Regions from separate parts of the Homo sapiens genome. Here regions 2 and 3 are each reported to be linked to region 1. The links are microRNA targets in miRTarBase. Many come from high-throughput screens and were not tested one by one. Region 1 holds a microRNA gene; each other region holds the end of a gene's coding sequence.
Evidence for each region. Region 1 holds the annotated microRNA hsa-miR-4470 (UGGCAAACGUGGAAGCCGAGA, at 3,843-3,863, opposite strand). A microRNA usually pairs through its seed, bases 2 to 8, with sites in the 3' UTR of a target mRNA and lowers its output. Matches are read on the target gene's strand: a 7mer-m8 pairs with bases 2 to 8, a 7mer-A1 pairs with bases 2 to 7 and ends in A, and an 8mer does both.

Region 2: the mRNA of ZNF486 is a reported target of hsa-miR-4470. Seed matches in the 3' UTR shown: 7mer-A1 at 4,416-4,422 and 7mer-A1 at 4,407-4,413.
Region 3: the mRNA of POLR3F is a reported target of hsa-miR-4470. The part of its 3' UTR that is shown has no 7-base or 8-base seed match.

The regions. Positions count from the first base shown.
Region 1 is chr8:61,712,826-61,718,694 of GRCh38, reverse strand. MIR4470 (microRNA 4470) reads right to left here and starts at 3,907; the gene lies at 3,836-3,907. ASPH (aspartate beta-hydroxylase) reads left to right here and starts at 4,103. Exons shown (of 25, transcript NM_004318.4): 1 at 4,103-4,426. The coding sequence starts at 4,324. RefSeq lists silencers at 3,894-4,263, 4,304-4,733.
Region 2 is chr19:20,197,269-20,203,137 of GRCh38, reverse strand. ZNF486 (zinc finger protein 486) reads right to left here. Exons shown (of 4, transcript NM_052852.4): 4 at 2,650-5,869. The coding sequence ends at 5,036. All of the region lies in intron 5 of LOC105372310 (a long non-coding RNA gene), which reads left to right. It also overlaps the pseudogene LOC100419841. Among named protein-coding and RNA genes, the nearest start is that of ZNF486, 33 kb to the right of the region's middle.
Region 3 is chr20:18,482,807-18,488,675 of GRCh38, forward strand. It overlaps POLR3F (RNA polymerase III subunit F), which reads left to right. Exons shown (of 9, transcript NM_006466.4): 9 at 675-1,840. The coding sequence ends at 752. RBBP9 (RB binding protein 9, serine hydrolase) reads right to left here. Exons shown (of 5, transcript NM_006606.3): 5 at 3,734-5,869. It also overlaps the pseudogene RPL21P3. Among named protein-coding and RNA genes, the nearest start is that of RBBP9, 11 kb to the right of the region's middle.

The DNA of each region.
Region 1 (5,869 bases):
GTTCATTTACGTGTTGAGATATGACTCATATGAGGATAATTGCTTTGAAAACACTGAGTAGGGAATGCCTTCAAAATCCTCCTATACTTACCAATATCCTTTCGTTGCAACAAATTTCACTAATATAATATGAAAAACATATAAATGAATCATGACCAGTTGAAATTTATTGTTTTCCACTATGGTCTTACTATGGCAAATAAAGATGAGGAAATACTCAGTTCCAGTTTGCAATAATAAAACTTCACAGTAGGAAGATTGCATAAAAATGAGAGGCATTTTCTAGGAAGCAGGTTAAAGTGGAATTTTTAAAACGATGCTATAGTAGGTATAAGTAAGTCCAGAAATATTAATTTGGAAGGAATTTGACTGGAGGTTGTAAAGGGTCATCAGAATGGAAAAAAAAGAAGTAGGGCAAATCGTGTCCTCCAGTTCTCACTTGCAAATCCCACTGAAGGCAGTGGAAGGTTTATGGAAATACCTGAAAGACACATTTGACCTAGTTCAAAAGCTCTATTAAATTAGTATTTTAATAAATTGTCCTAGATAAGTCTTGTCTTTATGGTCCTTTTAACATTATTTCACCCATAGTTTGCTTGAAAATTACAGAAAAGAGGAAAAGCTAACAAGGGACATTTGACTTCTCCTTTAATTTAAAAGATACTAAGATACTTTGTCTTTTTCACAACCATGCTGAGAAAATGTCCTTTGTAAAGAAATATATGAATCCTAAGTAAGCTTTGCGTTTTTTGATGCCCATAATATGGGAAGTACAGACAGATATAAAATGTATAGTTCTGTTACTTAGCTTGAGGGAATTCAGTCCCTGAAATGAAACTGTGTCTAGAACTGATGGCATCTGATTTAAGTTTTATTCGATAATACTGAGCACATAAATGTTATCATAGTTGTTTCCTCAGGATACAAGAAAGCGCTAGGTAGCCTCTTTCTTTCTGTGATTCATATTTACTAAAACCTCTATTTTGGCCTGATATTGCCCAAGATACACAGCAATGTACCTTGTCAGGGGTACCAGATTTAGTTTCTGGAAATGCAGGAGCAAAGCATCACTTAATGGCATTTTGGAGTTAGCTATAAAACAAATTTGATTTCCTTAAAAAGATAGGCTTTGATAAGCACTTACCACTGGGTTTCAGACCTATCTTTGAAGGTAGGACCAAGGAGGCTTCCTGGAGACATCCATTAACCGAAAAGGGAGCCAGGTGAGACTTTCTCCACTCAAAACTATGTCTTATCCAGGAGGAATAATTTGGAGTATAGACTCTGGAGCCAGTCCAACCAAGTTCACATCCCTCCTCTATCACTTACTAGCTTTGTGACTGTCCCAGCCACTCCAGCTGTGGCTGAAAGGCTCCAACGTACAGCTCAGACTGTGGCTTCAGAAGGTGGAAGCTCCAAGCCTTGGCAACTTCCACGTGGTGTTGAGCCTATAGGTGCACAGAAGTCAAGAATTGAGGTTTGGGAACCTCCGCCTAGATTTCAGAAGATGTATGGAAACGCCTGGATGCCCAGGCAAAAGTTTGCTGCAGGGACAGGGCCCTCATGGAGAACCTCTGCTAGGGCAGTGCAGAAGGGAAATGTGGGGTCAGAGCCCCCACACAGAGTCCATACTGGGTCACTGCCTAGTGGAGCTGTGAGAAGACTGCTACCATCCTCTAGACCCCAGAATGGTAGATCCACTGACAGCTTGCACTGTGCACCTGGAAAAGCCGCAGACACTCAATATCAGCCCGTGAAAGCAGCTGGGAGGGAGGCTGTACCCTGCAAAGCCACAGGGATGCAGCTGCCCAAAACCATGGGAACCCACCTCTTGCATCAGAGTGACCTGGATATGAGACCTGGAGTCAAAGGAGATAATTCTGGAGCTTTAAAATTTGACTGCCCCACTCGAATTCAGACTTGCATGGGCCCTGTAACCCCGCTGTTTTGGCCAATTTCTCCCATTTGAAATGGCTGTATTTACCCAATACCTGTACCCTCATTGTATCTAAGAAGTAACTAGCTTACTTTTGATTTTACAGGCTCTTAGGTAGAAGGGACTTGCCTTGTCTCAGATGAGACTTTGGACTGTGGACTTTTGGGTTAATGCTGAAATGAGTTAAGGCTTTGGGGGACTGTTGGGAAAACATGATTGGTTCTGAAATGTGAGGGCATGAAATTTGGAGGGACTGGGGCAGAATGATATAGTTTGGCTGTGATCCCATTCAAATCTCAACATCAAATTGTATCTCTCAGAATTCCCATGTGTTTTGGGAAGAACCCAGAGGGAGGTAATTGAATCATGGGGGCCGGTCTTTCCTGTGCTATTCTCGTGATAGTGAATTAATTCTCATGAAACCTAATGGGTTTATTGGGGGTTTCTGCTTTTACTTCTTCCTCATTTTCTCTTGCCACCTCCATGTAAGAAGTGCCTTTCACCTCCTGCCATGATTCTGAGGCCTCCCCAGCCATGTGGAACTGTAACTCCAATTAAACCCCTTTTTCTTTCCAGTCTGGGATATGTCTTTATCTGCAGTGTGAAAACGGACTAATACAGTGACCCTACTTTGTTTTATCTCTCTGAGCTTCCAGTATCTAATTTCTTTAAAAAATTGATATGACTACAGGGTTTTGTGAGAATTTAAGGGTAAAAATATCTTTGGTGTGGGGGGTGGGGGGTGGCTAGAGCATTGTGTTTTGAAATTTAGCTCTCATTTTTATTTTATATGAAGCACCATCACTCAGATTTATTTCTTAATCCAGTTCTCCACCTCCTTCATTGAGATAATATAATAGAGGGTTGTAAGGGGGCCCTGAATGGGAGAAAGGATATATGGATGCAGAAGGAGATGCCACAAGATAAAAGCTGAGAGAGCTACTTCAATAAAAACTCTGTGAACTCTCCCCTCCCACCGTCTCTTGATAATAGCCTAACACTATTTGACAAAAGGTAAAGAAAGGCATTCTCTTTATTCTGCAACATGACCTTTGGGGGGTTTCTGTGCATCATCAGGGCAGGGTCAAGCAGCATCCAACCATCCACAGGTGAAAAGGCATGGGGCCGGGGGGAGGCGGGAGTGCTTCTGAAGGCGCGGGTGGGTGGGTTTGTGGGGCTGGAAAAGAGGAATGAAACCAGATGCCACAATGCAACTGCTCTCTCTGGTCCCTGAGCCCTCCTGAGACACTCCCAGGGGTTGCTACGAAACATGATCAAGAGCTGTGGGTTCAGCAATTGACAGAAATGTATCAAATCACTAAGCATTTCTTGCTTGCCTGTTACACATTGGGCATGGTGTTAGCAATGGTGACACAAAGATGATAAAGACGTCGCTGATCTCAAGTCCTTGTCTGGTTCAACCACGTGCCAAGACATTTTAATACTCTGTTGGGAATTCTCAGGCAGCACAGGCCCAGGCGTTAGCAAAGCAGCCAGGGATTTCAGACAGAGGGTGCCATCCAGGGTAAGAAAATGAACTTTTTGTGTCACATTTGCATTTTCATTCCTTAACTAAGAGTATCTGAAAATACTGATGGCACAAACGAACTAAATTCCTGCTTCAGCACCAAATGGATGAACTACTACGGTTTAAGCATTGAACTAGTCCTAATATCACCATTCCAGAAATGTCTTAGTATTAATCAGGACAAGAAATAGGGATCTCTTTCGCAAGAAGCGAGACTGCACTCCTTCCTTTCCTTGTATACGGAAAGGGGACAAAATCCACAGTGAAAGGCCTAGAAGCGGCGCACTCCGCCCACGGGCGGCCCACGTGTCCACCTATTCCGCACCGCGCCCTGTCCCATCCCTATGGAGCGGGGTCTGCCAACGCTCGCGAGAGCCCTCTCGGCTTCCACGTTTGCCACGTTCCAAAGGACCGAGACAAACTGGAAAGCCGAAAGAGGCTCGCGCTCACAGGCAGCTGCGTAGCGCCCGAACAGCCCTAAGTGAGCAGGGGCGGGGAGCGCGGCAGGGTACCGCCGCCTCGTAAGGGCCCTTGCGATTGGGTCCCAGGCGCCGTCACTCAGCCTTCCGGGGGCGGGGCGAGGCCGGGAAGGGGCGTGGCCGTCGGGCGGCGAGCCGCGCGCTCTCGCCCCGGGAGGGAGTCACAGGTTCGTACACGCGAGGCCGGGCGCGCGCAGCCGGCAGGCGGGTGAAGTCTTCCCAGGTGCTGCAGGCGGTGCTGAGGCACAGGGTCTGCTGCAGGAGCAGCGGCCCGAACCCGCTCCAGCGGCCCGCCGCCGCCAGCGGTTCCCGCGTCGCGTGTGTACCCCCGCGCACTGAAGGAGGTCCGCCAGCCCTCACCAGCCCCCGCGGACCGTGCAATGGCCCAGCGTAAGAATGCCAAGAGCAGCGGCAACAGCAGCAGCAGCGGCTCCGGCAGCGGTAGCACGAGTGCGGGCAGCAGCAGCCCCGGGGCCCGGAGAGGTCAGAGGCCCTGCGGGGCGGGGATCTGGGGCCTCGCCTCGGGGTAGGGAGCCGGCTGGCGCGGCGGACGCTGCGGGTGCATCTCCCCAGGTCCCACCGCGCGCCGCCTCCATCCCCCGCGACGCTCCTCCTTTAGGCGCGCGGGGCGGAGGCCGCATTCGGCGGGCCTGGCGGGCGGGCGAGGGGCCAGGCGGACCGGGGTCCGAGCCCTCGGGATGCTAGTCTCGGGGAGCCCCTTCCCAGCGGTTCCTTCACCTGCAGGGCGCAGCCGAGACAGAGGTTGCTGAACGACTGTTTCTTGGCTTTCCGTGGAATTGAACATGGGAGTAAGAGAACAATTTATCGTTTGCCTTGCGTGTTTTGGGGAGTTGAAAATGAGCCAAAGTCAGGGAAAGTGAGTTCCTGCCTAACCAGCAGCGTTTCAGAGCAACTCAAAGGAGGTGAAAATGGGGGCGCCGGGGGGCAGGGGGAGGGAAGAAGTTGGGAGTGATTTGAATGCTCTCAGAAATTATTTTAAATATTTTTGCTTGTATGTAGCTTTCTTAATATGCGTTGCAGTTGCCTTTAAAATAGAATGTCATGAAATACTGAACGAGCGTCTGTATTTTTACCACTTTTACTTAAAATAAAAATCGATTGGATATTCACCTTTCTCCTCGTCCGTGTGCATATCCAGCAGAGAGAACAGATTTTTAAATCTGTTTCGTCTCATATTTCAGTGATTCTTGGTTTCTTTTATACTTCCTTTGACTCATATTTGGGATATTGAAACTGCAATACACATGTGTATGGAATGTGAGCTGTAAACTTCACTTGAAGTGATTTAGACTCTTTGTTTTCTGAGATCTTCAGATCATGCATTCATAATATACCAAGAAAATGAATCAGCTATAGTCAAAGAAGTATTTTCTTTATAGCACTTGTCACTATCTGAACTTGTCTTATTACTTTCATGTGTGTTGTCTTTGGCTCATTCTCTCTGTATCCCCAGCTCCTAGAATGTTCCTTTCCCATAATAGGTGCTCAATAAATATTTGAGTAGTGAATGAATGAATGGATTTAAATGGGGAAAGTAGTGCATTAAATCCATTGCACAAATTTACATTCTAAGGACTAATATTTGTATTCTAAAAGTAAAGATGTAGACACAGTTTGAAGTTCAATGCAAGCATATTAATTCACCTTTGACATAAGTGAAAGTTTGTGTTCCTTTTTCACTTGTTCTTAAATGTCACTTACTTAAACCTGCAGAGGGATAGATTAATTGCCTCAGCCGACTGAGGCTACTCTTTTTTAACATCCCTAAATGAGAATGGGTTCTTCTCATTGTGCCTCTAAGGGCACTAAGCAGAGAAAGCTGATGAACAACTTTAATGTTAGTTGTTTTCAAAAGGTTTCTGTAGCTATTTGCCAGAGAAGCATGTCTTCGTTCCATTTCATTTT
Region 2 (5,869 bases), not on the chromosome of region 1:
AGTGTGAGCCATAATGCCTGGTTTTCTAATAAAGGCATTTATTTATTTCTCTGAGACACTCTCTCATTCAGGCTGGAGTGCAGTGGTGCCATCTCACCTCCCTGCAACCTCTGCCTCCCGGGTTTAAACAATTCTCCTGCCTCAGCCTCCTGAGTAGCTAGGATTACAGACGTGTGCCACCATGACTGCCTATTTTTTTGGTATTTTTGTAGAGACAGGGTTTCACCATGTTTGCCATGCTGGTCTCAAACTCCTGACCTCGTGATCTGCCCGTCTCAGCAGATCTCAGCAAAGTGCTGGGATTAAAGGCATCAGCCACTGTGCCCAGCCAATAAAGGCATTTTTGTCAGGGATGGCCGATGTTTTTTGCTGTAAGGGGATATAAAATTAGGGAACTTTTAATCTTTCATCTTACTGATGTCACTCGCCCTCTACATTTTGACTATTTTCTATTTCAAATTTGTCTGTAATTTTAGATTTATTTATGACAATATGCTAGAATTTGCATGTTATGCATGAAGTAAATTACATAATTAGTAGGCACTCCATATTTACCAAAATAATTACTTATAAATTTAAGTTTGCTGCAGGCAAAAAGGAATTACAGGGTTTTCATCTACTTTCTTCAGCCTGTATCTGAAGAATAAAATAGTTTATTTCCTAATATTTTCTTTCACGTATCAAGGTGCCTAATCCTGTTCTTCAAAGTATATATTTATATTTTCTATGTTTAACAATTTAAGTCTATTCTTTGCTTCTAAATTTGGATTTCAGCAGTTTCATTTTGTGTGAGAACAGCATATATTTTAAACATAACAAGTAACCCTAGTTTCTTTTAAATGCTTATTTATTAAAAACTTCTCTTTAGAATCTTCTATTTATAATTCTTTGGAAAAAAAAAAAAAGGTTTTGGCCGGGTGCAGTGGCTCACGCCTGTAATCCCAGCACTTTGGGAGGCCAAGGCGGGTGGATCATGAGGTCAGGAGATCAAGACCATCCTGGCTAACACGGCGAAACCCCGTCTCTACTAAAAATACAAAAAATTAGCTGGGCGTGGTGGCGGGCGCCTGTAGTCCCAGCTACTCGGAAGGCTGAGGCAGGAGAACAGCGTGAACCCGGGATGCGGAGCTTGCAGTGAGCCGAGATCGCACCACTGCACTCCACCCCACCCTGGGCAACAGAGAGAGACTCCGTGAAAGTTTTCTGCTGCTTTTGTTATCTACATAAACAAAGATATCACCTGCAAATAATGAACTAATTTCCAGTTTTATTCATTACAAATATTAACTTTTTTTCTGGCATATTTTTCCTTTATGCACCATTTTATACATTCACACACACATAGGACAATAAAAATATATCTAATTATTTAATTTTGGTTGAATTTTCATTAAAACAAGTGTTAACTATGATTATTTGTTTTCTGTTTGAAGAGGGCTTTTATTGTTGTACTCAAGAGCGTTGTTTCTGGAGACAAAGCTGCCTGTACTTTAATAGACAGATTCTGAAAAAAATTTGAAACATAAGCCATAAAATTTTATATTAATAAATTCAAGACAAAGCAGAAAGCATAGATTTGCTTTCAGCATTCTCAAGGAGCTTAGTTTTTTATTAGCCACCTTATTAAAATAATTTGTTTTGTTCCAATAATTGTTCTTTTCTTCTGAAAATATGTACAATCTCATGCTCACACAAACACACTCCATAAGTTTCTTACATCTAAGGTTTATCTTCAGAGTAATATGTGTATATTTAACTGATGTAAATTAACACTGAAAGTCTACATTTGCAGGCAAAGACCACATGTTCAAAGAAAACCATATAACAAACATTTATTAATAAGTTTTCAGTATATGTATGATTTCTATTTCTTTTTTTCTTGAGATTGAGTCTGTTGCCCAGGCTGGAGTGAAGTGGTGCAATCTCAGCTCAGTGCAACCTCCAGCTCCCAGTTACAAGTGAATCTCCTGCCTCAGCCTCCAAACATGCACCACAATGCCCAACTATATTTTGTATTTTTAGTAGACGAGGTTTCACCACGTTGGCCAGGCCAGTCTTGAACTCCTGACCTCAGGCAATCCACCTGCCTTGTCCTCCCAAAGTATTGGGATTACAGGCATGAGCCACTGGGCCTGGCTGTATTTTATTTATATTTCTGTATAATTTTTATTATGATCATAAAAATAACCCTGTAGTCAATAACAATTTATTGTACATTTTAAAATAACTAAAAGTATATAATTACACTGTTTTTAATACAAAGGATAAATGCTAGAGGTGATAGATACCTTATTTACCCTAATGTAGTTACTACATATTATAGGCCTGAATCAAAATATGCCATATAAAGCATAAATATATACATATACTATATACTCACAAATACTAATAATAAATTTCAGTAAGAAAAGAGAATAAAAATTTAACCTATGGGAACAATATTCTTAAATTCATTTGCTGTTTAAAGCCACTGGCAAAGTGATTACTAGAGACATTATTCCATTATGTACCAAATAGTATATTGCTACCATCTTTTACCTACACCTTTGAGTAAGGTGGGATAGGTTAGTGGCATAATAATGCTTCATTAAATGCACAATAGTCTTAACATGGTAAAAAACATAAAATTAAATTCACACATAATCTAACAATTTTTAAATGCACTGCATTTTATTACATAAAAGTACAATAAGTAAAATATACGAATTTAGTTTAATATACTTTTATCAATAATTATTTCTTGCACTATAATGTAGAAAAGTATTACTCTGACCTACCTTATACATTACTTCATATAGGTTAACTACAAAGAGCCTCTCCACTTATATTTTCATCATGCATCTTACATTTTAATGTCCTTACTTTTATAGAAAAGGTCATAAATGCCCAATTAATAAAAAACTATCTCTAATATCTCTGATGCAGCAAAAATTGATCACATGCTTTCACATGTGAATACAATAAGAATAAAATAACAGCATAAAGTAATTTGAAAGCTGTATTATGTCATTACCCACTTTTCAGAAAAATTTTTTTAAGGAAACAAATACACTTTTTTTTTTGAGATGGAGTCTTGCTCTGTTGCCCAGGCTGGACAATGGTGCAACCTCGGCTCACTGCAACCTCCACCTCCCAGGTTCAAGCAATTCCAATTCTCTGCCTCAGCCTCCCAAGCAGCTGGGATTATACGCGCCGGCCACCATGCATGGCTAATTTTTGTATTTTTAGTACAGACAGGGTTTCACCATCTTGGCCAAGATGGTCTTGAACTCCTGACCTCGTGATCCACCTGCCTTGGCCTCCCAAAGTGTTGGGATTACAGGCATGAGCCACCACACGCAGCTGGAACAAGTATACTTTTAATGTAATTACAATGCTTCCAAAAATCTGCTTTTAAAGTTATACACAAATAAATTTTTTTTTTTCCTGGAGACAGAGTTTCACTCTTATTGCCCAGGCTGGAGTGCAATGATCTCGACTCACCACAACCTCTGCCTCCAGGGTTCAAGCCTCCTGAGTAGCTGGGATTACAGGCATGTGCCACCATGCATGGCTAATTTTATATTTTCAGTAGAGACTGGGTTTCTCCGTTTTGGTCAGTCTGATCTCAAACTCCCGACATCAGGTGATCCTCCCACCTTGGCCTCCCAAAGTGCTGGGATTACAGGCATGAGCCACTGTGCCCAGCCACAAATAATTTATCTAAGAAGTGTTTCCAAACTCATTACATTTGCAGGAATCTTCTTCAATATACATTCCCTGATGTTGCACAAAGTTTGGCAACCGCTTTAGGGTTTCCTTCTAATACAAAACGCGGGCAATAAGATCTGTAATACAAGCAAAGGTACTACAAACCTCTTTATATTTGTAATGCTTGTCTTCAGAATCAATACTCTTCTTCACCTTAAAGGCTTATATTTTCTGAAAGATTTTTGTCACAGTAATTGCTCTTTTATGAACCTTCTTCTGTTGAGTAAGATGTGATGGACATTAATGGCTTTTCCATATTCTTTATATTTGTACAATTTTTCTCAAGGATAATAGCTTTCCTGTGAAATACGGTGTAAGCACTGATTAAAAGTTTTGCCACATTCTTCATACTTGTAGGTATTTTGGAAGTATGAATTACCTACAATAAAGTGTGGCAACCATATAAAGGCTTTGTCACATTTCATACATTTCTATGGTGTAGTATAATTTTTTTTATGCATAGAAAAGTTGGAGGTGTTGGGAAAAGCACTGTCACATCTTTCAGGTTTGTAAAGTTCCTCTTCACCATGAATTATCGCCATGTCTCTTAAGAATTAAGAGCTTATGGCTGGGAATTGAGGCTCATGCCTGTCATCCCAGCACTTTAGGAAGCCGAGGCGAGTGGATCACCTGAGGTCAGGAGTTTGAGACCAGCCTGGCAAATATGGCAAAAGCCCATCTCTACTAAAAATACAAAAATTAGCTGGGAATGGTGGTGGCACCTGTAATCCCAGCTACTTGGGAGGCTGAGGCAGGAGAATGGCTTGAACCCAGGAGGCAGAGGTCACAGTAAGCCAAGATCATGCCATTGCACTACAGCCCGGGTCACAAGAGTGAAACTGCATCTCAAAAAATAAATAAACAAATAAAAATAAAAGAATTGAGAACTTGTTACAGGCTTGCCACATTCTTCACACTTGTAGGGTTTCTGTCCAGTATGAATTATGTGTAATAAGGGTTGAGAACTTCCTTAAAAAGCTTTGTCAGCCAGGCACAGTGGCTCATGCCTGTAACCCCAACACTTTGGGAGGCCAAAGCAGGCAGACCACCTGAGGTTAGGAGATTGAGACCAGCCTGACCAACATGGAGAAACCCCATCTCTACTAAAAATACAAAATTAGCCAGGTGTGGTGGTGCAGCCCTGTAATCCTAGCTACTAAGGAGAGTTACTTGAACCCAGAAGGTGGAGGTTGTGGTGAGCCAAAATTATGCCATTGCACTCCAGCCTGGGAAACAACAGCAGAATTACCTCTCAAAAAAATAATAATAATAAAATAATCCTTTGTCACGTTCTTGGTTTCTGTCCAATATGAATTCTCTTATGTTTATTAAGGTCTGAGGACCAGTTAAAAGCTTTGCCACATTCTTTACATTTGTAAGGTTTCTCTCCAGTATGAGTTGTCTTATGTTCAGTTAGATTTGAGGATGTAGTATACGCTTTGCCACATTCTTCACATTTGTAGGGTTTCTCTCCAGTATGAGTTCTCCTATGTTTATGGAGGCCTGCAGACCATGTAAAGGCTTTGCCACATTCTTCACATTTGTATGGTTTCTCTCCAGTATGAATTATCTTATGCATAGTAAGGTGTGAGGAGCGGGTGAAGGCTTTGCCACATTCTTCACATTTGTAGGGTTTCTCTCCCGTATGAATCTTCTCATGTTTACTAAGGATCGAGGATGAAATAAAGGCTTTGCCACATTTATCACACGTGTACGGTTTCTCTCCAGTATGAATTTTCTTATGTGAAGAAAGAGTTGCAGGATGGTTAAAAGCTTTGTCACATTCTTTACATTTGTAGGGTTGCTCTCCAGTATGGATTATCTTATGTGTAGTAAGGGTATAGGGGTACATAAAGGCTTTGCCACATTCTTCACAAATGTAGGGTTTCTCTCCACTATGAATTTTCTTATGTGTAGTAAAGCTAGAGAAGTACTTAAAGACTTTGCCACATTCTTCACATTTGTAGGGTTTCTCTCTAGTATGAGTTATCTTATGTGTAGTAAGGTGTGAGGACCGGTTGAAGGCTTTGCCACATTCTTCACATTTGTATGGTTTCTCTCCAGTATCAATTTTTTTATGTGTAGTATGGGTTGAGGACTGGTTAAAAGCTTTGTCACC
Region 3 (5,869 bases), not on the chromosome of region 1:
CTAGACAAAAGGCTAACATATTAGGAATTCTGTTTTGCACCCTTCACAAAAAGGTAGCTAAACATGAAACATTTGGTTAATCAAAATTAAGTCATTCATATGTATAGGTCTCCCTGCCCATATTCCTGTGTTACCTGGTGATAGCCTTTTGCCCAGCAGACAGGTGAGCATGGTCATCTTAATGCCACAGTAAAAAAAGCCTCTCTACTACTCCTAACTTGATGATCACAAAGCAGGCCCTATTATAGTATGTTCTTCCCGCTCCCCCCTCGCCCCCCGAGATGGAGTCTTGCTGTCGCCCAGGCTGGAGTGCAGTGGCACGATCTTGGCTCACTACAACCTCTGCCTCCCAGGTTCAAGCAATTCTCCTGCCTCAGCCTCCCGAGTAGCTGGGATTACAGGTGCCTGCCACCACGCTCAGCTAATTTTTGTATTCTTAGTAGAGACGGGGTTTCACCATGTTAGCCAGGATGGTCTTGACCACCCACCTCGGCCTCCCAAAGTGCTGGGATTACAGGTGTGAGCCACTGCGTCCGGCTATAATATGTTCTTAAGTACAGTCCTAGTCCCTTTCAGTTTGAAAGTTTTGTTTTTAATCTTGCTTTAAATAAGTGGTTGGGTCTTAGATATTTTAAAACTTTAATTTGAATATAATTTTTTTTTCTTTTTTAAAGGTTTTTGATGACTGCCACGAAGGTGGTGAGATTTCACCATCTAACTGTATTTACATGACAGAGTGGCTCGAATTTTAATAGAGAGCTATGAACTTTATTGACATTTTGCAAATGAAGTTACTTAGGGAGCAGATAATTTAATTCATGATGGAACACGAAATCTCCTTGAAAGCAAACTTCACAATAATGGACGTAGACTTGCTGCTATGAAAACATATTTTTTTTATTTATGAAGACTAAATTTATATTGGTAAAATAGCCAGTAGAATATGAAAGAAATAAGGTTAGTAGTGAAATTCATTCTTCAATAAATAAAACACTTTGAAACTCCGGAGGACCACATCTTTCAAGACTTCTGATGGGTCAAGGAAAAAGATGCCAACATACCCGTATTTACCAAGTACTATGATAATGGCTAGAGTATAAAAATGTTCTTTTTAAAGTTATTTATTAAGTTCTTCATTGGAAGTTTTTTTTTATATCTGGTTCACTACCACCATTTTCTGTTTCCTACTTTCTCAGTGGTTTCATTGAAAAGAAATTAGAAGGGGTTAAAGGCAGGAATAGCAAAGAGTGCAAACTTGGGGTATGACTGGGGGAGAGTGGAACATGCCTTTTCCGCACAATATTAATTCCTTTTTGTATCAGAAATGTTCTTTTAGGAGATTATGCTACCATACTTACTTCAAACCCAATGACTACTGTCAAGGACATATTTTCAGTACATAAATACTATCATTTTCATTCTAAAGAATATTTTCACTGTTCCTTCTTTCTTAAAGTCTTATGTTTCACTCTTTAACTCAAATGTATTCTTTGTTAGAATTTACCCTAGATTCTTATTTAATGTCTGCAGTAGACTGAATGTTTGTGTGCCCCCAGAATTCTAATGTTGAAATCTCATTTCCAATGTGATGGTATTTGGAGGTGGGGCTTTTGGTAAGTGATAGGTCAGGAGAGTAACAGCGCTCATGAATGGGATTAGTGCCCTTATATAAAGAGACCCAGAGAGCTCCATCACCCCTTCTGCCATGTGAAAGGGAGAAGACAAACATCCACGAACCAGGAAGTGGGTCCTCACCAGAAAACAAATCTGTAAGCACCTTGATCTTGGACTTCTCAGCCTCCAGAATTGTGAGAAATAAATTTCTGTTGTTGATAAACCACCAGTCTATGGTATTCTGTTATAGCATTAACTGAAACTAAATATACTCCGTGCCCTCCATTCACACTTTATTTTGAGAGAGGGGATAACATTCTTTTTCTCTTACTCTGTTTTAGATTTATTTCCCTTCCTTATTCTGTTCTAAATCATGGTGTGATGTGTCTAAGCAGAAAGCCATTATAATTGTCCTCAGTTCTAATAACACTTTCAGTTCCTATGGTCAGCCACATAGAAAACACTAGGTTATTTGATGTATTGTTGCACAGAAGTTGACTGTGCGGCTTTTTAGAATTGCAGCTTCATATTTTCACTTTGTAGCTCCACTTAGAAGTTTCTGTATCCAAGCCAAAAACATGGGACCCATGGAAAGGAATTCAAGCTCCACTAGTACTGAGGGTTGGGTTCTAATACCAGTTTGGAGATGCTCTAAGTGGATATCAGAAGAGTTATTTTAAGATAAATGGTATCAGTAAAATAAAATTCAGGCCACATTCTGTGAATTAGCATTTGATGACACTAGCTCTTTGTAACAAAAATTATTTCAAGTATTGAATATACATACATATATAAGATACACAGCCTTTTGGCCAGAACCCCCATCTTCCAGTAATTTGCCAAAATGATGAACACAAACGGAAAGAGGAGAGGCACCCGATATATGTTCTCTAGGACTTTTAGAAAACATGGAGTTGTTCCTTTGGTCACGTATATGCGAATCTATAAGAAAGGTGATATTGTAGACATCAAGGGAATGGGTACTGTTCAAAAAGGAATGCCCCACAAGTGTTACCATGGCAAAACTGGAAGAGTCTACAGTGTTACCCAGCATGCTGTTGGCATTGTTGTAAATAAACAAGGGCAATATTCTTGCCAAGAGCATTAATGTGCATACTGAGCACATGAAGCACTCTAAGAGCCGAGATAGCTTCCTGAAATGCATGAGGAAAATGATCAGAAAAAAAAAAGAAGCCAAAGAGAAAGGTACCTGGGTTTGCCAGGGATGGTGGCTCACGCCTGTAATCCCAGCACTTTGGGAGGCTCAGGCGGGCAGATCACGAGGTGAAGAGATCGAGACCATCCTGGCCAATATGGTAAAACCCTGTCTCTACTAAAAATACAAAAATTATCTGGGCATGGTAGCGCACACCTGTAGTCCCAACTATTCAGGAGGCTGAAGCAGGAGAATCGCTTGAACCTGGGAGGCGGAGGTTGCAGTGAGCTGAGATCGCGCCACTGCACTCCAGCCTGGTGACAGCGAGATTCCGTCTCCAAAAAAAAAAAAGAGAGAAAGTTACCTGGGTTCAACTGAAGTGCCAGCCTGCTCCACCCAGAGAAGCACACTTTGTGAGAACCAATGGGAAGGAGCCTGAGCTGCTGGAACTTATTCCGTATGAATTCATGGCATAATAAGTGTTAATAAAAGATCTCTGGACTGTAAAAAATTATATATATAAATATATATAAATATAAATATATATATAAATATATATAAAAATATATATGTAAATATAAATATATATATATGTAAATATAAATATATATATATATATATATATATATATATATATATATATATATATATATATATATATATGAAGGATCTGGGAACCTGAAACTACAGACAGAGGGTTTCTCTTCCACCCTCAGTGAGAGTTGGAATGGTAAGAACAATGTCTGTCCTTCCTGGGACTTGGCCTATCAAAAAGGCACTAGTTTTATGTAGTAAGAAAAATGAACTTGGAAGAGAGCTAGAAATGAGAAGAAACCAGCTTGTATGTTTTAAATATAGACTTTGTCTTATGTCTTTATAGCTAAAGATTGGTTTTTAGAGCTTAACATTCAATGGCTAAAACAAAAGTATTCCTTACCTCACCAATAAAGAGAAACTTCAAGCTTTTTTCCCATGGTATGTTTTTAATTCTGAAAATTAACTGAAGGAGACAAGAGACAATTTAAAATTACAGCACCTCTGATGAATAGTTAAATGGATCATTTATCCTACAGGGATAAACTGTAACCAAAACAGATTGTGGGGCTCTAGACTCCGGACAGCACCAAAAATTCAAGTTGCATATGAAGTCCTAATACTTACAGTTGATTTCCATTCAGTATTCGGTATTTTGCTCACCTGAGAATAGATACTCCCCAGAGTGTATAGAGGCCCCTGTATATTCAATGATGACCACAAAGAATCAAACAGAAATCAGAAATGACAGTCCATGGCTCTATGGTTTTTAATGAATAGTTTGTGTAGATTTTCCCATGAAACACCCCTGATCTTAGTTGGGTGATTTATAGACCTATGATGTTGGTGGTGATCAGCTAAGCAAACTAGCCAAACAGAAGTAATTTCAAATTAAGTCACTTTTACTTTGTGCTATTACTCATTATTGGATGGTGGGTGAGGGGAAAATACAAAATATATGTCCTAGACCAATGTTGTCCAATAGAGCTTTCTATAATGACGGAAATAGCCTATATTGGCTGGTCAGTAAGGTAACCAATAGCCACCAGTGGCTGTTGAGCACTTGAAATATGGCTAGTTTGACTGAACTGAATTTTCAATTTTACAGCTAGCTGTGGTTACTGGTTACTATATTTGGCAGCAAAGTTCAACAATCCTATAGGTCTATCTTAATTACTTTTATAGGAATGAAGAGTATCAGAATTATTTCTCAATTATATATATTTAGTTTTCATTTCTACAGAGAAAGAGGTCAACAAAGTTTTGTGAACTAAATTGTATAAGTTTCTTTTTTAGGAAAGGACTTCACAGAGAACAAGGCAAAGAATAAGTAATACAACAGCAAATTTCCAAAAAATTCAAGTAGAATCAAACTTTGACTATAGATTTGGTCAAATTAGTGCTAAACAGCCTCTTTAACAACATTATTATTCAACTGATTTATATAATTTGCTTTTTAGTAGTCAAATACATTGTTTTAAATCTTAATTATTTTTGATTATAAAATACATGCTTAGTGTAACAAATTCAAATAATCAGGAGGATAAAGTAAAATAAGGGGCCGGGCATGGTGGCTCATGCCTGTAATCCCAACACTTTGGGCGGCTGAGGTGGGTGGATCACTTGAGGCCAGGAGTTCGAGACCAGCCTGGCCAACATGGTGAAACCCTGTCTCTACTAAAAATACAAAAATTAGCCAGGCGTGGTGGCACATGCCTTTAGTTCACACTACTTGGGAGGCTGAGATGAGAATCACTTGAACCCGGGAGGTGCAGGTTAGAGTGAGCTGAGATTTGTGCCACTGACCTCCAGCCTGGGAGACAGAGCAAGACACTGTCTCAAAAATAATAATAAGGACGTCCACCACACTTTACCTACCAAAATGCCCATTCCCCAAAGATGATTGCTGTTGAACGATTAGGGTACCTTTCCTGATTTTTTTTGTCTAAGCACATTTAAAAACCAAGACTTTTGGTTTTGAGCGATAGCTCTGAATCTCCTTTAGGTATGAAGTGTAGGAAATTGTATTTCTGCAGCAAACTTAGGCTTTGCAACATCAAGTGTGGATTCACTGGAAATTATTTGAAGGAACACATAGCGATCATAATAGCCAAAAAATGTTGGGAAATGAAAAAGGGTGGGTTTTTTTAATTAAAAAAAAATTTTTTTTTTTAAGAGACAGGTTCTTCGCTCCATCACCCAGGATGGAGTACAGTGGCGCGATCATAGCTCACTGAAGGCTCAAACTCCTGGGCTCAAGCAATCCTGCCTCAGCCTCCCAAGAAGCTAGGACTACAGGTGTGCACCACCATGCCTAGCTAATGTTTTAATATTTTGTAGAGATGGGGTCTTGCTGTGTTGCCCTGGCTGGCCTCAAACACCTGGCCTCAAGCAATACAACCACCTCAGCCTCCCACAGTGCTGGGATTACAGGCATGAGCCACCACACCCAGCCAAAAAAAGGTTTTCTGAGGAAGTATGATCAGAAGAAAATGGAATGTGCTTGAAAGAGATCTAAAGGGCCATGGAAGTTAAAAGGTTTAACTCTATAGAACAGAACACGAA